Homo sapiens: one gene and its partners. The protein of the gene in region 2 interacts with the protein of the main gene of each other region in a biochemical or structural test. Each region holds a gene or a part of one and is shown on either strand. Other genes may lie near its edges.

What was found.
Region 1: the proteins of PLXND1 (region 2) and SEMA4A form a complex in vitro, tested with the Homo sapiens proteins (2 studies listed by IntAct, with this or other methods).
Region 3: the proteins of PLXND1 (region 2) and SEMA3E interact in a biophysical measurement, tested with the Homo sapiens proteins (one study listed by IntAct).

The regions. Positions count from the first base shown.
Region 1 is NC_000001.11:156,156,585-156,163,584, reverse strand, and holds part of SEMA4A (semaphorin-4A isoform 1 precursor), read right to left. Parts: intron 5,516-7,000; coding exon 5,453-5,515; intron 5,198-5,452; coding exon 5,099-5,197; intron 4,884-5,098; exon of another isoform or gene 4,867-4,883; coding exon 4,761-4,866; intron 3,143-4,760; coding exon 3,026-3,142; intron 2,681-3,025; coding exon 2,556-2,680; intron 2,240-2,555; coding exon 2,067-2,239; intron 642-2,066; coding exon 491-641; intron 1-490. UniProt on the Homo sapiens protein: Cell surface receptor for PLXNB1, PLXNB2, PLXNB3 and PLXND1 that plays an important role in cell-cell signaling. Regulates glutamatergic and GABAergic synapse development.
Region 2 is NC_000003.12:129,603,309-129,611,239, forward strand, and holds the start of PLXND1 (plexin-D1 precursor), read right to left. Parts: upstream 3,369-7,931; 5' UTR 3,332-3,368; coding exon 2,021-3,331; intron 1-2,020. UniProt on the Homo sapiens protein: Cell surface receptor for SEMA4A and for class 3 semaphorins, such as SEMA3A, SEMA3C and SEMA3E. Plays an important role in cell-cell signaling, and in regulating the migration of a wide spectrum of cell types.
Region 3 is NC_000007.14:83,645,765-83,654,008, forward strand, and holds the start of SEMA3E (semaphorin-3E isoform 1 precursor), read right to left. Parts: upstream 3,376-8,244; 5' UTR 2,779-3,375; coding exon 2,664-2,778; intron 1-2,663. UniProt on the Homo sapiens protein: Plays an important role in signaling via the cell surface receptor PLXND1. Mediates reorganization of the actin cytoskeleton, leading to the retraction of cell projections.

The DNA of each region.
Region 1 (7,000 bases), on a different chromosome or scaffold from region 2:
ATGCCTGGCTAATTTTTGTATTTTTAGTAGAGATGAGGTTTCACCATGTTAGCCAGGCTGTTCTCAAACTCCTGACCTCAAGTGATCCACCTGCCTCGGCCTCCCCAAGTGTTGGGATTACAGGTGTGAGCCACCACACCCGGCCCTGGCCTCTGATTTTTTTAAAAAGTTAAATAAATGCAGGTGGCAATGCCCAAGACAGTCCTTGGCACACAGCGCATGTTCCCTTGTTTCCATAGTGATATACCCAGATATTTGGTGTACACTTAGCCTTGGTGAAGGGAGATGGCTCCAGCAACTGCTCCGTGTATAAAAGGGTGCTAGGCACATGTGGAATATAGGCAGCTATACCAGGTGTACGTCTGAGCAGGCGAGATTGGTGGGGTGGAGAGCACTAACATTTATTGGGCATTTACTATGCCATGATAGGTGTTTTTTCATGCACATTATGTATGTGTAGACTGTGCTCAGTGTGGGGGGTAGTACTCACACTGCCTGGCCGGGGGTTGGTCTCAGGGCCCCTATAAGTAGTCCAGCGTGAAGTTTCTTTGTTCAACTCTTTGTATTTCCCCTTAAAGACACGTTCAATGTCCAAGAGAGAGAAGGCACAAACCGCAGAGCTCCTGGTCCCGCCAACCTGCCTGGAGACAGCCAGAGGGAACATTGTCTGTGGTCTCTGCCACACCAGCAGCTCTCTCTCCAGCGCTGGCCCTCAGTGAGAAAACCCAGGAGGCAAGAGTGTGGAGAGCTGGGCCAGCCTCCAGCTACCACTCCTTCCCCTCACTGTGTTGATAAGGGCCAAGGGAGCCCCATGGAATTCCCTGACTCTGGCCCAGGGCCTGGCTCTAGGCCCATCTTGGGATCTGAAGTCTGATTATCCTTAATGAGAATTAATTGGGGCTCAGGCCCTGGGGTGGCCCCTGCCTGTCCTGCCTACACTGGGCTGCACCCATTGGAGGGACAGTGTAACCAGCTCTAGCCTGGCTCCACACAAACCCCTCTTCCTTTGAGTCTCTTGGATCCCTGGTCCTCAGAGAACCGACCAGTGCCTGACTACCAGACTGTTATTATTCCTCAACCCTGGTCTGTGGAGACAGGAGGTCTGTTTCTCTGCTCTCTTGAAGCTGACTACTGTATACACCAGGCTCTCAATTCTGGATCCTGTGGATACCAGATCCCACTTACCCCAAATACCTTTGGTACCTGACACATTGTCAGCAGGTACCTAAACACTGTGGGGCCAGACCATGACTCGGGGACCTTGGACAAATTGGTTAACCTTTCTCAACCTTCAAGCAATGACTTTATTTTTATTTATTTTTTTTGAGACGGAGTCTCACTGTGTTGCCAGGCTGGCGTGCAGTGGTGCGATCTTGGCTCACTGCAACCTCCGCCTCCCGGGTTCATGGGATCCTCCTGCCCCAGGCTCACGAGTAGCTGGGACTACAGGCATGCGCCACCACACCTAGCTAATTTTTGTGTTTTTAGTAGAGACGGGGTTTCACCATATTGGCCAGGATGGTCTTGATCTCCTGACCTCGTGATCTGCCCACCTCGGCCTCCCAAAGTGCTGGGATTACAGGCATGAGCCACCGCACCCGGCCGACTTTATTTTTATCTTCTGATACGGATAGCGTTTCCCTGTTTGCCCTGGCCATTAGGAAATGCAGAGCTAAATTTGTGGCTGGCATCCAGGGACTATCCTACATCTTATGACAAGCATTTGTAGTGTGTTGGCCTTACCCTTGGCTTCTCATATTCTCCTTTTATTCCCATTTCTGTATCTATTTTATCGATTTTAATATTTGCCTTTTGTAAAATGCTTCCTATCCCTTTTGGAACTAGGCAGAATATAAACTAGTTAGAACCTCTCTGCGTCTTATTTTTCCCATTTACAAAAAGGGCATGAGTCAAATTCCTGAGAGGTGGTGACGATTTAATGCCTTCCTATGTGAAAGTGCTGAGTAGGTGCTGGCTCATGTCAATTCCTGCCTCCGCTCACGAGCTGGGGCCTCACTGGCGTCAAGTCCCGTGTCCAGCCCCCATGGTCCAGCCCTGCTGCTCACCACTGGGAGGTGAAGACTGCGTAGATGTGGGGAGCTGTGGGAGAATCGGCGGGGAGCAGGACCGCGTGGCGGATGACGTTGAAGGGCAGCTGCCCCGGCTGGGTGCAGAGCAGCTGGGCCTTCAGGAAGGTGGTCCACTTCTTCTGCAGCAGCTTTTCGCCGCCCACGTCATTCTGGGGGCACAGGGGGAGTCAGGGGGCGCCCCGGGCGCCCCGACCCCCCAGCCCCGCGTGTCCTCCCCGCCCCCCGCAGCTCGGCGTGTCCCCCCAGTCCCCGCCAGCCCCGCGTGTCCCCACCCCGCCCCCTCAGCCACGCTTGTCCCCCGCCCCACCCGCCCAGCCCCGCTGTCCCCCGCCCCACCCCGCCAGGCCCGCTTGTTCCCCGCCCCGCTCCCCCGCTCTCACTGGGGGCCCACCACTCAGTCCTGCCCCTGCCATCTCCCTATTGGTTCTCCTCCAGTTAGCCCCGCCCCCCGCCCAGGCCGCGGACCTTGCAGACTCTAGCCACCCGCGATGTGTGGAGCCTCTCAAAGAAGTCAAACTCGCTGGCTGTCTCCTCGAAGAAGAAGTAGACGACCTGGGTCGAAGGGATGGCTGCCACAAAGGAGGCGTCATCTGCGGGGGAGGGGCAGATGGGCTTAGGGACTGAGCCCCTGCATGCCCTGGGTTTGCCTGAGTGAAAACCGTTGGTTTGGCCCTGGAGGCCAGGACACACAGGCTTCCTCGGGTCCCACAGCTTGTCGAGGGGTAGCGATGTGGGGTGGGGATGACTGGTACTTCTTTAATGTGTTTACATAAGACGAAAGCTTCAAGAGAACCGGAGCTTTGCCTTCTTCCCTGCCATATACCCCCTGCGCCTAACAGTAATGGACACATTGTACCTTCCGCAAATGAAAGTTGAGTGAATTAGCAAGGTCACCAGGACTCAGGAAAGGAGGCCAGCGGGGGTCAGGTCCTTACGATGCAGCCAGCGGAGGAAGTTGTCGGTCTTGAGGACAGGCTGGGATCCCAGTGTGCGCATCAGGATGGGCTCACTGCCCAGGAAGTTGTTCATAGTACCAGAATAGAGCATCCCATCTAGGGTGGAGGAGAGGAGAAGAGAGAACTGATGGGGTGGAGGGTTCCTCTGCCCTCCACAGACCTGCCTCTGACTGGGGCTGGCATCCATATCAGTCTCGGGGGCCCTGCATCAGTTCTGCACCTTCCTGGGGAGCCTCAAAGGCCAGCTCCCCCTCCTCACTAAGCACCCCTCTTAGCTTCCTCTCTCCACAGGAAATGGCCATCCTGTGTGGCCCTCCGTGTTTGGGCACTTTTCCAGCCTTTCTGTGGCTACTTCGTCACATACCTAGCTGAACCACTTGCCAAGTAGAATCACTTACTGATCCTGGAAGGTGACTGTGTTTTCCACTTCCACACCTTGGGTCCTACCCTTCTCTCCCTGGAACACCTTCCCTGCCATCTGTCTACCTATCTTTTCAAGGTCCTGCTGAAAAGCCGAAGGCCATCTCCTCCAGGAAGGCAGGTGGGAAGTCTGTAATGGTTGGTGTCCAGTAGTGCATTGATACATGGTTTCTCTCTCCCTTTTTTTTTTTTTTTTTTTCAAGACAGGGTCTTGCTCACATCCAGGCTGGAGTGCAGTGGTGCCATCACAACTCACCGTAGCCTTGACCATCTCAAGCGATCCTCCCACCTCAGCCTCCCAAGTAGCTGGGATCACAGGCGCTTGTCCGGCTAATTTTGTTGTTGTTGTTTTTGTTTTGTTTTGTTTTTAGTAGAGACGAGGTCTCACTATACTATTGCCCAAGCTGGTCTCAAACTCCTGGGCTCAAGTGATCCACCCGCCTCAGCCTCCTAAAGTGCTGAGATTTCAGGTGTGAGCCACTGCACCCAGCCTGATTTCTTGTTTATAACTCCTATACTACCCAGCACAGTGCCCAGTACACCAGAGGAAGTGTTCACACAATTGTTGAACAGTGGCTCAGTCTCAGGCCTCTTCTCTACCCAATACCCTTCCCGGGCCCTCGTGCCTCTGTCTCTCCACATGCATCTTTCTCCACCACTTTTTGTGGCAATTTCAGCAGGAGCTGGTGGTTGGGGTGCTTAATTCTCCCTCTGATCTTGTGTTCTGAGGCTTCTGGCTTCCCTCTCTCTCTCTGTCCTCTGCATTTTCTGTTTTGTTTTGTTTTGAGACAGAGTCTTGCTTTGTTGCGCAGGCTGGAGTGCAGTGGCGCGATCTTGGCTCACTGCAACCTCCACCTCCTGGGTTCAAGCAATTCTTGTGACTCAGCCTCCCGAGTAGCTGGGACCATAGGTGCGCCCTACCACGCCTGGATAATTTTTGTATTTTTAGTAGAGATGGGGTTTCACCATGTTTACCAGGCTGGTCTCAGACTCCTGGGGTCACATGATCCACCCACCTCAGCCTCCCAAACTGCTAGACTGCTAGGATTACAGGCATGAGGCACTGAGGCTTTTTTTTTTTTTTTTTGAGACGATCTCGCTGTGTTGCCCAGGCTAGACTCAAACCCCTAAACTCAAGCATCCTTCAACTTCAGCTTCCAAATAACTGGGACCATATGCACGCATCACCACACCCAGTTTCCCCTGCCTTTTGGAAAACTCTGTAATATTCCATATTTCACAGCGTGACTGGAGAAAGTAGATGTTGGGATGAAGTGGGAAACCTGATACTCACCCACCAAGACAGCCGTATGCTTGTGAGCGGGGTCAAAGGGGCTTTGGCCTTTTCCCTCCATGACCTTGTCCTCCGAGATGGGCAACAGGTAGGAATCTTGAAGTTCCTAAATGGGGAGAGAGGCTGGGGGGCCAGAACGCCAAGGTCTCACATCTGGGAAATGAGGGGCTTGAGGAAGGAAGGGAAAGGGACATAGAGGGAAATTGGTCTGGGGCCAGGAAGTTCATGAGGGTCCTGCATCTGGAAGGCCAGAGTTTTCCAGAGCTACAGAGGAAAGTCGTGGGTAGATGTGAGAAGGGATGCTTGGGGGCCTGAGCGCTGGGCACCAGAGAACTCACAATGAAGGTACAAGCAGGGCTGAAGGCGAAGGTGCCGCAGGTGTAGAGATGGGTGACATTGTAAGAAACCAGGACACGGATGAAGTTGAAACACTGTGTCTGAGGGAGACAGAGAATTTAGGTCTCCAGGCCACCTGACTCAAATTGCTGGACCCCCAGAGGCTGCCCCCTCACTGAGGAGAAAGGCTAGGTAATGCTGGGGCAGTCCCTGTACGCCTCTGTAGAACATAATCCAGGAGATAACCGTGCAAACAAGTGCCCTCCACTGCCGCCCAACCTGAGGTCATCCAGGGATGGTCTAGGGATGCCAGAGCTCTCTACCCACTCTACCCCTACTCCCCCACCTCCACTTACCTCATTGCTCTTCTTCTTAAAGGCACATTCACTCTTTTTTCTGTCACTGGCTGGCCACGGTATCTGAAAGTGGGGAGTTGGGAGGGCGAGATGAAAAGAAATAAGGTCCTCAGTTCTAGCTGTGACCTGCCTCCCTTCTCTGCTCTGATGTGAAATAACCAGCAGACATGGTGGTTAGTGACATGCTGATGGGCAGTAATAACATCAGTTTGTGACCATGGCTATTACTTGAATAATACTGGTATCAGACATAGCTCCATAGTTGAACACAGCCTAAGGAATCAGACAGACCCAAGTTTAAATCTAGACTTGGCTATTTCCTGACTGAGAGATCTTGGTCAATTTCATAGGCTACTGGCAGATACAACCAGGTGGCATATACAAAACACCTAACACGATGAATGGTATATATGGCAGCAGTTGTCAAACCGCACATTTCCTGGGGAAATTGTTTAACAAGTTGGTTCCTGGGTCACGCCTTAGAGAATCTGCATTTTTAACCAGCATCTCATATGTGCAGGTGGTCAGCAGACTACACATCAGGATACATGAACCATGGAGGTGATTGCTAATATTGCTAGTGCCTTCTCTCCCTTTCTTCCTTCCTTCCTCACATTGTTCCCATTAATAGGGCGACTAAGACAGAAGCAGCCAGGCACAGTGGCTCACACCTGTAATCCCAGCACTTAGAAAGCCTGAGGCGGATGGATCACCTGAGGTCGGGAGTTCGAGACCAGGCTGACCAACATGGTGAAACCCCGTCTCTACTAAAAACAGAAAAATCAGCCATGCCTAGTGGCGGGCGCCTGTAATCCCAGCTACTCAGGAGACTGAGGCAGAATTGCTTGAACCCAGGAGGCAGAGGTTACAGTGAGCCAAGATCACGCCATTGCACTCCAGCCTGGACAACAGAGTGAGACTCCATCTCAAAAAAAAAAAGACACAGAAGCATCAGTGATTTCTACTAGTGGGTAGATATCAAATTATTGATATAATTTGAGTCAGTGTTTATCTCATATGTCAATGATTTCCATATCAGCCATTTTTGCAATTAATATTATTCAATCACTATTCACAATACCAGTGAAGAGTGAAGTCACAGGCCGGGTGCGGTGGCTCACGCCTGTAATCCCAACTCTTTGGGAGGCTGAGGCAGGCGGATCACCTGAGGTCAGGAGTTTGAGACCAGCCTGGCCAACATGGTAAAATCTCGTCTCTATTAAAATTAGCCTGGCATGGTGGTGCATGCTAGTGCCAGCTACTTGGGAGGCTGAGGCAGGAGAATTGCTTGAACCTGGGAGGCGGAGGTTGCAGTGAGCCAAGATCGTGCCACTGTACTCCAGCCTGGGCAACGGAGCAAGACTCCATCTCAAAAAAAAAAAAAAAAGTGAGGCCACGACATTTCCTGTCTGTTATATTGTCACGATATACATATAAAGAGAACTGCTGATTACAGATAACAGCAACTAAGTTATTCATGCACAGGCAGCCAAGCCCAGGGTAGCTGCCGGCCCCCTCTTCACTCCCAGCCCACACTCTTTATCCCTG
Region 2 (7,931 bases):
CAGCTGGGTGAGTCACTGCACCGAGGGAGCGGACCGTGGGAACCAGAATGGTTCTTGCCAGAGGGGGAGGGAACCCTGGGCTGGCCTAAGGAATCCCACAGATCAGCTTACACCAAAGGGCCGAGACACAGGGCCTGAAACTACTGGAGGAAGGCCCTCAGTCCACAGGACACTTCTCTCCATTCAGCGACTCCCCACTGAGACCCCCAGTGCCAAACACAGTTGCCTGCGAGATGAAGCTCTGGGGTGGAGATGGTGGATGAACCAACCATGGCACAGGGCAAGCAGCCCCACCACCCTTTGGACTGTCTGCCCTGCTCACCCACCGTGACCTTTACTTTCAGGGTGGCCGGCCAGATGGTGGGCAGTCGTGGGAGACCGACCTCGACCTTGGGAGAAGGAATCTGCATTTTCTCAAAGCCCCAGTGTTGGGCCCGCCCACAGAGGAATGGTTAATCTCATGAAATTCTTGTCACAGCCATGGAGAAGGGACAGGGTGGGGCCCCAAGGAAGGCTTGGGTCACCACAAGAAGGCTGAGTTCTGCATTTTGCTGATGGAGATGCAGCTTCCTAAGGGAATGGCAGGCAGTGGAGCTGAAGTGGGCTCGCCAGACTCAGATGGGTGGAGGGTGTGGGAAAGGCCCCAGTGTCATTCTGGGGCCTCATTCCTCAGGGTGAACTATGGGGATCAACAGACCCAGCTCCCAAAGCCAGTGTGAGGAGCAATCCCTTGCCATGAACTTCCTTTCAGGGAACCACACCAAGTCCCCTCCCGCACCCTTGTCATGTCAACACACATGCTGATTCCGTCAACCTGGCCCCCCTTGCTACTGCCCAACCCAGCCTCAGACACCTGGGCCCCATGCCTGCCTGTACTCCTCCTCATTCCCCACTGAGCCCCACGGCCCTCTCCTGCCCCCAAAACACCCCTGTTCACATCCCTCCATTCTCCTGGCCCTGGCATCTGCCCACCCCAGCTGCCTGGGACGCCCCCAAAACACACGCACTCTGAGATCCAAGTCCAGAAGGCAGCAAAGGCTGGGCATTAAAAACACAGATGCTGAGGCCAGACAGGCTGGATTCAAATCCACCTCTGCTAGTGCCCAACTGTGTGATCCTCAGCAAGTTGCTTAACCTCTCTGTGCCTGTTTCTTCATCTGTAAAATGTGATGAGAATAGAGGCTACCTGAGAGGGTTGTTCTGAGAACTGGGAATTGTGACATGTGATGCCCCTAGCTGGCACTCCACAAGTGCTATTGTTTACCCCAGACTCCCACACCTGGTACATACTAGGTGCTCAGGAAATATTTGCAGAATAGGTGAATAAAAGTTGGCCTCAGGCACACACCTGTTTGCCAACCATGCAGCCTCCTCAGAGTACCGACTCATGCCCAAATACCTGCGTCCCCTGCCACGCACATCCCACTGCACACCTAGCCCTGTCCCGTTGTACCAGTGTCTGTGCAGTACACCTGTCTGCCCTGTGCGTCTTCAGGCCCCAGCTTGCTGGCACACAAGTCCATGCAGACATCTGCAGGGCCCTGGTGCACACCTGTGTGCCTCCTTGCACACCTGCCACACCCATGCACCCATCACCAACGTGCAATGGTAACTCTGACAGGCTCACGCAGTGGCCCCAGAACACAACTTTGGTCAGGCATGCAGTCACTTACTGCGCCCTCAGCATGCACCTGTGACCCTCACGTGCATACCTGGGCTTTATGCGCACCTGGGTACCTGTGGCAACTTGGACCCCTCCCAGTACGCCTAGGTATGCGCGCCCATGAGCCGGCACTCACTTGAGTCCCTGCACATGCCCACCTGGGCCATACAGGCGCCAGTAGTACCCCTCGGGGGACACCTGTATTCTCGCGTGCACACCTGGGTTCCACGTACATCTGGATCTCTGCGCGCTCCCACCTGTGACCCACTCAGCTCACGACCCGCTCGGTTCCCGCCCGCCCCCGCCCCCGCCCCCGCCGCCGCCGCCGCCGCCGCCGCCGCCACCGCCCGGGTGTACCTGGATGTTGAGCTTGCGCTCACAGGCCGGTCCCGTGCCCTGCACCACGCTGTCGAGCACCGCCACCACGTCGGGCGCCGGTTCCACGAAGCAGGCGGTGCGCGCAGCTCGGATGGCGGCTCGCACGTCGGCGAAGCGGAAGGCGCAGAGTGCGGCCGGAGCAGCGCGGGCCGCGGGGGACCCCTGGGGCCGCTCGAAGACAGCAAAGAGCCGCTCCCGGGCTGGGAAGACCGACACCAGGCGGCTGTAGAGGTCGCCGCGGCCCGCGCCGCCCGCGCACTGCAAGCCCAACTGGATGTAGGACTCGGTGAGCTTCTTGGCGTCGCCGCCGGCGCCGTGGGGCAGGCAGATGCGCGCCAGCAGGCTCCGCGCCTGGCTCTCCTTGTCGCCCGCGCGCGCCTCGCTGTTGAGCGCCAGGTACGCGTAGGACTGTGCACCCGGCGGCGGGTCGGACGGGTGCAGGAAGGCGCTCACGAAGCCCAGCTTGTGCTGCTCCTTGGCGCCCTGCTTGATCTTGAGGATGTTGTCGTCGGAGGGGTTGAGGTCGAAGGTGAAGAGCTTGGCCAGGTCGCCGCGCGTGTCCAGGGAGCGGATGGCGATCTCGGGCGTGTTCTCGAAGCGGTGGTCCTCCAGGCTGCGGTTGCGCGGGAAGAAGGAGCTGCCGTAACCGGTGTACGTGGCGCCCACGAGCAGGCGGCTGCCCCCCGCGCCCGCGGCGGGAGGCAGAACTAGCCCCACGGTGGACGCGTTCGGGTGGTTGGCCGCCACGTTCAGCATGCTGGGGAACACCGTGACGGGCTCGGCGGGCGGCGCGGCGGGCGGGAAGCGCACGGCCACGGCCGAGATGTTGCCCCGGCGCCGCAGCTGGCAGAAGCCCTGGTAGATGGACCCGCACACGACTACCAGGCCCTGGCCGGGGTCCAGCTGCAGGATCTTGTTGTAGTTGTCCGTGAGGCGCCGCGGGTGCTCGCACGAGGCCTGCGGCAGCTGCGGAGCGTGACACAGCGGGCTGTCGGGCACCGGGCCCACGGCCGCCTCGGCCTCCAGGCTCAGGTTGGCGCCCGACAGCTGATAGAGGCGGTTGACGGCCGCCAGGTACACGGTCCCCGCCGCGCCGTCCAGGGCGAAGTTGTTGGTGGGCGTGGGCGAGGGGAACCGACGCTGGATCTCCAGGGCGCCGGCCCGCGCCGCCCCCAGGAGCAGCAGCAACAGCAGCGGCACCGGGCACCGCGGCGGCGTCTGGAACGGCGGGGGGCTGGCGGCGGCGGCCCGGGCGCTAAGGGGTGCGCCGCCCGCGGCGCGAGGAGCCATCCGGGCGTGCGCGGGCTGCGCGGCGCGGCGAGTGCATGGGGCGAGGCGCGGCCGGGAGCCGGGAGCCCGGAGGCGGCGGGAGGCGGGGGGCGGGCCCGGGCCGCGATGCGCTTCCTGCCCGCGCCAGCCGCCCCCGACCCCGGCGCCCGGGCCCGGGTCAGCCTCGCCGCGCAGCCCGGGGGCGGGGCGGGGGCGGCTCCGCTGCGGACACGCCCTCACTCCCCGCCCCGGCCCCGCCCGCCCCCGGGACCCCCGCCTGCCCCTGGCCGCCCTGGGCCACGCCCCGCCGTCCGCGGGTCCCGCCGCCCGCGCCCTCCAGGACCCGCCCGCGGCCCCAGGGTCCCTCCCCGTAGCCGCCGCCGCCGTCGCTCGCTCTCCTCGCTCTTTCCTCCCACTTGGCCGCTTGGCCTGCCTCGCTCGCGCCTGTTTTCTCTTTTCCGCCCTCTCCCCCACCCCGTCTCTCCCTCTCTCTGCGTCTCTCGGTCTCTGCGTCTCTCCGTCTCTGTCCCCACCCCAAACTCCGCGCGTGTGGCGCTTCTCCGGGTTCTGCCTCTGCTTCTCCTTCTCCCTCCGACTCCGCTTCGCTCTCCAGTCCCTGGCAGCCCCGCCCCCGGCCCTTTCTAGTCTCCTTCTCTCTCCTGCTCCGTTTTTCCGTCCCTGACGCTCGCTCCCTCTCTCCGTGGCTCCCTCTGCCTCCCCCTCGGACCCTCCGTCCCTCTCTCGGTCCCTCTGAGCTCCCCTTTCCTTCTCCCTCTGCCTTCCCGAACCCTGTGTCTCCCCTCCACACTCAGCCTCCCTCCACCACCTTTCTCAGGCACTGTCCAGGCCTTCGCTCCCCCGGTGCCGGCCAGTCGGGCCCCCCAGACCCCATAATCTGTCCCCCAAACCCCAGACCCATAAAAGGGATTTACAAGTGGCAGGGCCAGAGGGACCAGTGCTCAGGGTCAGATATATAAATGAGGAAAACATGGAGAGAGGAAATAGTTCCAGCCAGTGGCCCACAACCGATAGCCAGAGCAAGGCCTTGGTCCTGGAGCCCACAGTTGCCTCCTGTGGAGACCCAGCCGCACCCCCACCCCTGGCACCCCCGCCAGGCACTTTCCCTGACATCCTCCCAGGCTTAGTGGAAGATTAGTCCCACAAAAGCCGGCACTGGGCAGGGTTCTTGATCTCAAAAGCAGCGTTAGGGGCAGGCAGCCTGGTTCCAAGGTCACAGCCCTGTGAGGACCATGCGCCGTGGCTGTTTTGCGGGGGTGCTCACACAGGGCTAGCCCGTGCCAGACACTGTGCCAAGCACTTGCCATGTACGGGCTCTCTTTTTCCTCACAGATTCCCCCGAGGCGAGCGCTATTGGTAACCCATCTTCCAGATATGGAAACCAAGGCTGAGGGGAAGGGACTGGCCCAAGATGCACAGCTCATGAGGAGCAGAGCTACAGTGTTTGAAAGCAAAAGCCCTTCAGCTCCGACCTCTCAGAACGGGGCCTCCCATCAGACCCCCAGCTTCCACAGGGTGCCCGGTGGGCCTCACTCTGAGAGTAGCGGGACCTCATTTTCCTCTTTCCCACCCAACCAGGAAGGAAGGGCAGGGGTGTCTGTGCACCATGGGGCCGGCAGGAAAGGCTGGGCCTGCAGCCGCCCCCCACTTCCCTCAACACCCTCGCCTTCCTGCCATCCTGCCCGCCTTGTTCCAGACCCCTCAGCCCTGGTCTGGCCACTGCTTTGATGGCCGGGAGTGTTGAGCTGCAGGAAATTGGAGGCCCCCTCCCAGGCCCATCCACCCACCAAGAGCCACTCAGGGGACTGCCCGTGGGACTGTGTCCCTGTCTTCCTCTCTGGATGGAGAAGGCGCACATCGTGCCACCCGTGGGGGCCAACTGCAGAGCCCAGCAGGGGTGCATGGGGCCTGCCTCCATGCCCCTCCTCCTCACTCACATCCTCAGTGCCCCCACCCCAGTCCATCCGCTGGTCTCTCTGTCTTATCTCTCTCTCTCCTGCCCCCACCCATCTCTGTTCCTATCTGTCTTGCTCCTCCCGTTCACTCTCTTTGTCTCTCCTTCTCTCAGTGTCTTGCCCCCTTCCCTTTCCACTCTTCATCTGTCTCTCTGTGTCTCTATCTCTGTCTCTCTCTCTGTCTCCCTCCCTATCCCTCACCCCCACTCCCTCTCCAGCCCCTCCTCTCTTCCTTCCTGTCTCCCGCTCATCTGGTTCATCTTGCTGCATCCTGCAGCTCCCCCCACTGAGCCGTGAGGATAATGCTCAGTGTTGTCTTAGACCAGCCTGTGGTGATGATCCTGGGCACTTGGGACACAAGCTCCCTGCCAAGCTGAGCAGTGGGGTTTAGGAGCTCTCTAGGTGAAGGGTATTCGGGTCTGAGTATCCTCACATCAACTGGAGGTGAGAAGTGCTGTGTGGTCTTGTGCAAGGCACTCACCCTCTCTGAGCCTCAGTTTCCTCAACTGTAAAATGAGGACAATCGTAGCAGAACACCTGCCCCTGGGAGGGTGTGAGATGGAGAATATAACATAACAGGTGTCAAGCACAACAAGGCTCTTAGCAAACACCAGTTTCTCCCCGCCTTGTGGCAGTGAACCATGACCCCTGAAGCCCATGTTAGAGCCAGGAGTTGGGGTGGGGGGCATTGCAACTAAAGACCAGGGCTCCACCTCCTGTCCTGAGCCCCAATGTGGCTAGCAGAGCCACCAGACGGTGAGAGTGAATCCTGTGCCCAGCACTGCCCTACCAGATCTTACACCATCCTTGCAGCCAGCTGACTAGGCTGTGGTCAGCAAACCCATTTCACAGATGGGGAAACTGAGGGGCATTAGCAAGGTAAGGATTGAAACCCAGATCTGGCTCCACATCTTATGATTTCTCCCTTCTACCCATTAGCTGGGAGCACCATCAGGCCAGGATGGCTCATGGTGGCAGCCCCTATACCCCTGGCTGGGCAGAGGAGGTGCTGACAATTACTGGCTGAATGAATGAATAAAGGAAGGAACAAACCACACCTTCCCTGGCCTTACTAAGATGCAATGAGGTGTTCTTCCAGAGGGAATTTTGGAGGGAACCAAGGGGAGATGAAAGGTACTCAGGAGTGGGGATTAGGTGGGACCCAGCAATAACTAACTTGGAATGAACTAACCCAGAATAGCCAGACCTAGTTGGTTATTCACACTGCAATTTGGGCCTTTTTCAGTTTTTGTTCAAGTCTGATTATATCAAGGAAAAGGTCTTGGTTTGAGGCTAACATGTCTTTAATGACTGTAACATTTGTCACTGTCTCTTTTTAATAGAGAGAAGGTCTCAAACTCAGGGCTGTTGACATCAGCGTGCTAGAATGTACTGATAGCGCTTTGTTTTCTTTGTACTTGCCGTTACTTTCTGGTTTTGGCAAGTGCTACTGGTTTTCCATGTACAGTAATGATGTAAAGCTTCCTTGATAAATGCATTGATTGAAGTCCTTTAAAAGTGAGTTAAAGACAAATGTGAAATAGGTGATAATCCAGATGCCACCAAAATGCCTGAAATTTGGGAAATGTCCAGCAGTGCCTTTGAAGACGAGGACCTGGTGGCCGAGTCAGGGCAGTCTTGCTTGGGGCACGGTGGTCAACGGCTATGCTGGCTCGGAGAAGGCGGGCCTGGGCCTTCCACCCCACTGGGTGGGCTTCCCACCCTGTCCTGTCCATTCTCACCTCTGACTGCCCAGGGCAGAGCTGTGAGGAGACAGAGGAAATGTTTTTCTTCTTCAATTGGAAAAAATAACAGTGGGGCCAGGGTTGCGCTGGGAGGAGGGGGCTCCTGCCCTCCCGTCCCTTGGGCCTGGCCTCTGAGAACGTTTCCTTGCAGGAAATGCCCCTGCAAGGTTAATGCTTTAGAGCACCGCCTCAGCCACAGGAAGGTGCTGGAAACAAGAGTCCTAGGGACGGCTTGGCAATCCAGCCATGGGCCTAGGTGGTGCCGGGAGCCATCACTGCTGCTTCTCGGGGGCTGGACCCGTCTCATTTCCCCGTGGGAGCAACCCTGCGGGGGGGGTCTTAGCAACCCCCCTTTTTTTTAAATTATACTTTAAGTTCTAGGGTACATGTGCACAACGTGCAGGTTTGTTACGTTTGTATACAGGTGCCATGTTGGTGTGCCGCACCTATTAACTCGTCATTTACATTAGGTATATCTCCTAATGCTATCCCTCCCCCTCCCCCCACCCCACGACAGGCCCCAGTGTGTGATATTCCCCATCCTGTGTCCAAGTGTTCTCATTGTTCAGTTCCCACCTATGAGTGAGAACATGCAGTGTTGGTTTTCTGTCCTTGCGATAGTTTGCTCAGAATGATGGTTTCCAGCTTCATCCATGTCCCTACAAAGGACATGAACTCATCCTTTTTTATGGCTGCATAGTATTCCATGGTGTATATGTGCCACATTTTCTTAATCCAGTCTATCATTGATGGACCTTTGATCAACCCACTTTTGCAGATGGGGACACTTAAGGTCAGAGTGGTGTGCCACTGGCCTGCAGCTGCACAGCCTCCAGGCGTCCAGGCCCTGCTCTCAGCCGCTGCATCCCTGCGCCCCTTGCTTGGGGCTGAGAGGCCTGACCC
Region 3 (8,244 bases), on a different chromosome or scaffold from region 2:
TTAATCCTAATGATCCCTTCCTTTCCAGCTCTAGTTAAGAACATGTCATTCCCAGAAATAGTAATGGAGAATGAAGGGGAGAGGAAAAGGGCAAATCTCTGGACATTTTTTTTCTGAACATATTTTTATATAATTTAACTCACGCTCTGTATATGATAAACTTTCTCCTCCTCCTTGGGAAGAAACAATAGGCTTGTGTTTTCATCTTAAAAGTGAAGAATATGAGAAAAATGCCTGCCTTTCTCCCATACAGCTTAGATCATTAACTGTGAAAAGAATTTCTGAATTATTCTAGTAGGCTATCTCCAGGGAGCCTCCTGGATTTCCTTGCTAGTGGTCAGGCAGCGGTACAGAGATGCTATATGACATATACCTAGTGCCTCTTATATTGAAAGATTATATACTCATTTAAATATTAATTACTTAATTCACTCGCTACTGAACACTTGTCGTTACTGACATTAGTCAAGTCAGCAAAAGATTAATCTGTAATATCTTATTCCTAGTTTTTGAAGACTTCTAAAATATTCACTGAATTCCAGAGTCTAGAGAGATAAATGGGCTGTTCATATTGTATTGGTGGGACTGAATATCCCTCCTCTGACAGTATATATGCTCTTCTTTTCACTGAGGCCCCTGAGGTGCAGTAGGCATTTGCTGCTTCAGGTAGCATCTCCAGTGTGATCTCTTAACTGACTTTACTAACTAAATTGCACAAGTAGGAACATTCTATTTTCAGGTAACTCTCTCTATTCTGCCTTTGTATAAAAACATCATATTGTGCATTTTCAGCTGGTTCCATTAAATTCAAAGTTAAGGGAAATCCTGTGGGAGTTTTCAGTCTATTGTACATATAGATACTAGCGGTTTTACTCTCACACCATATGACACCACTCATAACATCAGTTACAATTATTTCTTTGAATATAAGTGACATAATAAAGATGAACTCGATAATAGTATTATGCATAACATTTACTTGTATCAGAGAACTTTGGTATTTTTTGATCAAATTATTAACTCTCTTATGAAATATTAAAATGTGACCTGTTGGAAAACACACTGATATTGAACCATGAAAACACAAGTACCCCAATAATAGGGTATAAAATGTTAATACTAGATATAACAGAATTGTAGCTTGCAAAAACTGGCAGCTTATCTACTTGTCTACATAAGAAAAACAATCAATTATATTTTTTTGCATTTTTATTTGTCCATATTCCATCACATCAAATTTGTACATGTTGACATCTTTGATGATAAACTTCTTAGAAATAGGCATTTTGATACATACCATGATACATCTTCCCAAGTTAAAAGATTAGTGTTAATTCTGGGCACTATATTTTAAACACTTTACCAATTTAGTATCAATGGATTTCTTAAATTTATATTATCTACTGGATAGTATTATAGGAAATCTATTTAAACTAAGAAAACATCCACTATTCTAAAAATGAAAAAATTTCTATAGTCAACATTTACTGAAGATTGTCCAATAAAAAGACAAAAAGGCCAAACGTGTCACATAAAATTGAGGACTCCCTTTTTGTTTCTCCTGATAAATATTCTACCTGTACTTAGAAAATACAAGCTTCTGTTCTTTCTACAGTGGGGGACAATTTAAAAGCTTACACAATTGAAAAATGATTCTTATGTAATCCTGAGTATTACATCTGCTATCTGTCTCAATGTGTCAATGGCTAGTGATAATAAATACTTCTTTGCTGACAATTTATTCCGAATTTATATTAAGTCAGCAAAGTCACTTTCTCTGAGCATGGTTTTGTTTATTATTTGTTTGTTTACAGGAGGAATTACCAAACCTATTCATGACTGGCTTGTATTGGTCCTGATGCAAAATCTATCTTTTAATCATTTATTTATGAGTATGATGTTGCTTTACAAGACAATTGTAGAATGAAATATTTAAACATTTGCTGTTAGATCTTCATTAAGGCAATATAAATTTACACTACAAATGCTAGTGAATACTAATACTTTAATCCATATTAGCCATTTTACAAGCATTGTCATAAACTATTTTCCTTTGCCACACATGAAAAAATTCTAATAATCAATTCAACTGGAAAACTAATTTATATTAGTTGTTAATCATTTTAATTACATGATGATGACAGTTATGGGTAGGGCATCATTTTTCTCCTCGGGATTTTTATTTTCTCCTCTTACCTCCATTATGGAAACAAAACAAAACAAAAACAAAAAGAACAAATTGCACCCCTATTTCTATAGCCCTTTCCCAGCATCCTTGTTTCTCATATGCATAAACTGATATTTAAATATCTACTGTTAACTTGGTGGATTCAGCCTCTCAAGGCTATTTTCAACCTGCTTCCTCCCTTCCTGTGTTCCGCGGGCTAGTGAGTGAACTCCTTATTGATAAAATCCAATGTTTACAGACAAAAATAACATCTCTAAGTTGACATGTGATTTTGCACTGTTTTCAGATGAGGTGAGTATGACACATTAATCAGAGGTACTTAGAATTTTAGGTCAGTTTTGCAATAAATTTTTCAGGTGCATTTTAAAGGTCTTTGAAGACCATAAGCCTATGTTAATGTTAAACGACTTTTTTTTTCTTTTTTCTTTTTCTTTTTTTTTTTTTTTAAACAAAAGGATCTGGAAAGGTAACCTACCTTTATGTGACAGGCGTAACCGGGGGTGGGTAGTATCAGCTGTATGACCTCCTGTCCAAAGCTCCAGTAAGTAACCCCACAGGAGCAAGGTGATAATGTGCCCCGCGGATGCCATGCTGCCGTGTTCACCGTCCAAGCCCTCGCTCCTCACTTTAAGGAGGGTCTGAGTTTTACTTAGGACTTCCCTCCAGGGGCAGCGTGCGAGAGGCTTTGTCAGAAATCGAACGCGTTGTCATCAGAAAGCACAGTTCCGAAGTGCCATTTGTCAGGCTGTATTTGGCTATGTAAAACCTTTCTTTCCTCGGGACAGTTGTTTATAAGCCGGGAGCAAGAGGACATTCCAAAGAGTGAGTCTTCAGAGCCATGTCCTGTCTAGAGCGCTCTTCAGCAACTACGCCGGTAGATTCAGGAAGAAGCTGTATTTTTCAGTCACTTGGGCAAAGCTGTTCATTCAGAAAAAAAAAAAAAAAAGAGAGAAAAAAACAAAACCGAGCACACGCACTCCCTTCTCCCGTGGAGGTCCTCTCTTCGGGCTCCTGGAAGCCTCTCAGAAGTCAGCCTCTTGCACTGACTTGCCAAACTGCTAGTTTTAATTCACCTTTCACCTTGCTAATTAAAAACAAGAAGTGCCATTCCCTCTAGGAGTCGCAGGATCCACCCAGCAGGGATGCAGTCTGTCAGTGGCTGTTTACAGGAAAGTTCAGGCAGGGTTGAGCAGCGTACTTGCTGTTTCTAGGAAGTATTTCTGGTCCACGTGCCTCGCTCCCATCCTCCCTCCCAGTCATAACCAGCCCCACGTTACTCAGCAGCAGGAGAGAAGTCCACATTTTGATGGGGGAAATGGGGAGTTCGGGAGGGGTGATGACATAGACTGATTATTTAAGAATAGGTGACAGACAAGGATGTGGCATCAGAAAGCGCTTTTAAATTCTTACCAAGATAAATTGACCTAAGTTGAATAAATCCAACTTCTTTTGAAAATAATCTATTTGTAACCATCCAGAATCCAAATTCTGTTTTTCACTGTTGCCATAAGGTTTTTTTCAAAATTAAGTCTTTTTCTATTGCTTATATCTTAGGGATGTTATTTTTAAACTCTTTTAAGAAAAGTGTGTTTCAAGAGCCTGAAAAAAAAAAGTTCATCTGTGACTGTCTCATAAATTTGATAGAAATGATAAATTATTTACTTAAGCAAATTGGTCAAATGAAATTAAAGGCAAATCCTTTGTCCTAAAGCAATTCCTAAATTTTACTTCAAATTTAGGAATGTTGAAGTAATTTCCCCCAGGTAAGGTAACTGGCAAAGTTGAGATTCACCACCCAAGGGATTTCTATAAAGCAGGTATTAGAAAACTTAGGATGTGCAATACCTTAGGATTCAACTGCTATGGACTTCCAGAGTTGATTTTCCAAGGCACTGTGTTTGTGTAAATAAGCTTAACACAATAGGTCAACTTTACAATCTACCTTCAATCAATCTCAAAAACTAAGCCAAACACTCAGGAGCTGTTGGCATGGAAATGAATGGTATTATGTTAAGATACCAATAAACTTGAATAGATATTTGATTTGATAGTGGAGAGTTAAATGGTAAACACTGATCTCAACTATGATAACTTTTTCTTATTCTGTATTTTAAATGCTAATAGTTAAAAACTTTTTGAGAATTATGTTTTAAAATCACGAAACTATAACAAAAAGATAACATGTGTCACCCTGATATTTTTGCATTATATAGAAGCATATGTACAGCCAGGCATTCTCTACCCATTTTTCTAATCATGAGATGTTCTTGTACAAGCAGAGTATATTTAGCAAAATGTAAATGTCACTGGACATTATAAATAATTAGATTTCCAAGGTCTACAAAAGATAGCAAACTCTAAACATTATTTAACAGTAAAATGACATGAAGTTATTTAGAGACTTTTAACCTGGAATGCTTGCATATTTTAAAAGCCAGTCTGATGAGCTACAGACCTAAAGGTTGCTCTAAATGTGATACATTGTACCTTCAAAATTCTCTTTTGCTTTCTTCTAGGATGGAAACAAATGACAAAATAAATAGCAGCTCTTATATGTGTTATCTAATAGTAGGATTATAGGAAAAGTAAATGTGGTGCCTACACCTTTTATTGCAAATTCATGGCTACTCTCACATAGCTGAAATTCTACTTAAGATTGCATAGTGCCTGTCCTAACTCTACTATAGAACTGAGACAATGTGAGACATTACAATCATTTCATTAGTACACAAAATATGCACCTCTAAAGTGTTGACAAGAGAATATATGTTATGAATGCCAAGATCTGTCTTTGGTTTTACATCTCATCCTTCAGATTAAGTTGGAGCAATTTAGAAGTAAATGCCAGAATAATGGGTTGTTTAGATTCCTCAAAATGTGCTTTGGCTTATCTGCCAGTTGTCAATGTCCTTACTTATTTCTTTTAACTACTCTTTATGTCCTTTTACCTTTATCTTTATCCTATAGAAAATATATAGATGATGCCAAAAAATGACTGTTAAGAAAACTATCTATAGTCTCAGTTTCCCCTATGTGGCATTAGCAATGGAATAAAGAGTCTTTGGGACCAAATTAGTCACTTACATCATAAAATAAAACAAGAAGAATCCTCAGAAGTAGAGTCATCAAATAGCTCATCATCTAAACAAGACTTTTTTTGAGAATAAAAGAGGCTTCTATTCATAATTACACACAAATCAATAATACTATAGACAAATCACAACATCAAAATCTGAATCCTTGGGAGCCATTTCTAGATACTCTTGGGAAACATGGAAATAGAAAATTAAAAACAATAACAACAACTGACTCACCACCAACAGTAAGGGAAGAGCTTTAGTGGACTGAAAAACTTTGGAGTTACCAACAATATCAGGTGATGTTACTGTATTTGATTTGAGAGGATCCAGGCTAGCAGTTTGAACAATATCAGACAACAAGGAAAACCAGGGGAGAAGATAAATGCCAATTAGAAAGGAATTGATTGCCAGGTCAAGGGTTTTATTCCAAAATCTCTCATTCTTGCTAGTCTTACATCATTGTATGAAGAGCAATCTCAGTCTGGTAGAAAAAGGAGAAAAATAAAAAAAGAAAATTGGGTACTCATCAGGAGCTGCAGTCTCCCCCATGATGGGTTCCATCACTGGTTCTCCAATTTCAACAGCAGAAAATCAACTAGCTTCTACAACAAGCCCTCCCAGGAGGCAATCCCATACTATCTGCTGTTGAATCAACCTCAGGTACTTGTTGAAGAACAGCTTGCTATGCCCCACCTCATGTTCCCAGTTTGCCTGAAATTTTACGTTCTAAGATTTGTGTTTGACAGATGTTCCTTTAGGGCAGTGTTACCAAAACATTAGGCATCTGTTTACCACATTCACCATTTTTAGTATAACACATAGTATCTGCAATTAAACTTAAATTAATATAAAATGAAACCATTACCTCATAGGCTTCATGTCCTACTTGTATTTTTCAAATACATGCAAAAACCAAACAGTCGTAAAAGTTTGTTTCTACATGACTTAAAATTATCTTGCATACTGTGGGAGACAGTACCTATCAATATTCCTTCAATATCGTATCATCAATATTCATTCCTGGGTATATGGGAGACTATACTTTCCAGCTCCTTGGCAGTCATGTGAATTCACTTGACTAATTCTAGCCAAGGAAATATGAGCAGAAGTGATATGTATCACATCTGGGCTGAGGCAGTGAAATATTCCTAAGAAATCATTTGGTCTTTCTGAAGCCCTTTCTGTGGCAAAAGAGGAGAACTTACCTTGAAATGGTGGCAGGATGAAATTGAATCATCTTACATTACTGAATCACCACTGGAGACAGCTACCCTAGAAAGTTACTCAGACTCACAAGAGACTTTGTATGAATGGGAGGAAACATGTTATGTTAAGCTACTTAGTTTATTTGTTACCACAGCAGAGCGTAGCCTCTCCTGACTAAATGCACACACTGTACCTACTGTGCTTCAGGGAACATGCTTTTGGACAAACTTAGAGCATTAACAAGTTGCTGATGGGGTATTACGGTGTATTCCATTCTATGTGCCACTAAAACTTACTTCAGCAGAAGTTATTCATACAGACAGGCAGAGATGTGGATACTTGAGGGCCAAGTAAGAGGTAAAGTAATTCCCTGTGCCACTTGTAGAATGGGGTGGAATATGCCTTTAGCTTTTCCAGTTGAACATTTACACAAAAATGATGACATATACATTATTTATAGGTGGACAACATTACACAGTACTACATCTGAAGAACATTATGATTAAAAGCATTAAAAAAAACCAAACTATCAAAATAGCAATAATAATTACCCTTTTTATAACTAAACACAGAAATACATAAATTTTATAAATATATAAGGGCTTAAAATACTTAGATAACATAACTTCTCTGTGGTAGTTATGGCATTTCAGCTTCACTAATCTCTCTTCTATTCCTGCTAGCCCTGCTATCCCAATGACCTCCAGTCTGGAGCACCTCAAATGTCCCACCAATAAGACCTGCTGTTGCTGCTGCTGCCGCCATTGCTGCTTCCGGGTTTTACAGTTCAGGACTGCTAATGCTTTTATTGGTCATTCTATTCAGATGCCTTATATCACAGAATTTGTAAAGGATCTAGAGTCTGGATTGACTGTTTCCCACATTCAGTGATTCAGGCAGATAAGGACAGATAACTACATCACTCCTGATTTGTATGCTGCTAAGCGTAGTCCCGGAGAATGGCATTCCATCAATTAGTACCATATACGATCCAATCATTCACCAATCATTCACCCGCCTGAAAGAGGTTTGGCTAATGTTATTTTGATGTTATCATTTGGATGGCTGACAATCCAATAAGTTGGCCTAGTATTTTTCCATTTTTGACCAGCTATTCTAAAAAGCAAAAAAGACTCATAAAATTTTAATGAAATTGCTCTCATAAAATTTTAAAATTCTTTGTTTCCAAATTATACTAGGTTTATTCTCATTTTCTTTTAGGTCTTTAATAATAAAGAAAAGCAGAATAAGCATTTGGAGCCAATATAAGCTTTAATGAACTTTAATCAAAGAGCAGTCATGATTTGCATGCCTTTTCATGGCAAAATGAAATGATTAATTCTGAAAATTCTATAATATACAGGCCCTGGGAGGTTTTCCTATACTCTTCCTTATAGGTTATAGAGAATTCCTTAAAGAGACAGAACTCCAATCAGTTGCTTTAAAAAATCTAACATTCTATTAAAAAAAAAAATCTGACATTCTGAAAAAACACTTCTATAATATGTTATAATTGATGGGTTTCTATGTCTTTTGTTATACATATTTGTGAGTTACTGGTGGCACCAGTGGTGAATTGGTTATAATATGTTACTATTAATCTCAATATCTAGCACTATACTCCAAACTGATTCCACTTTAAAATGAATAAAAATAATGATTACTGTTAACTTTTTGTTTTCTATATGCTAGGCAGCATGCAAGGCATATTCATATAAAATCCAATTAAACCTAGAAAATCACTCGATGCAATAGGTACCATTTTTATTG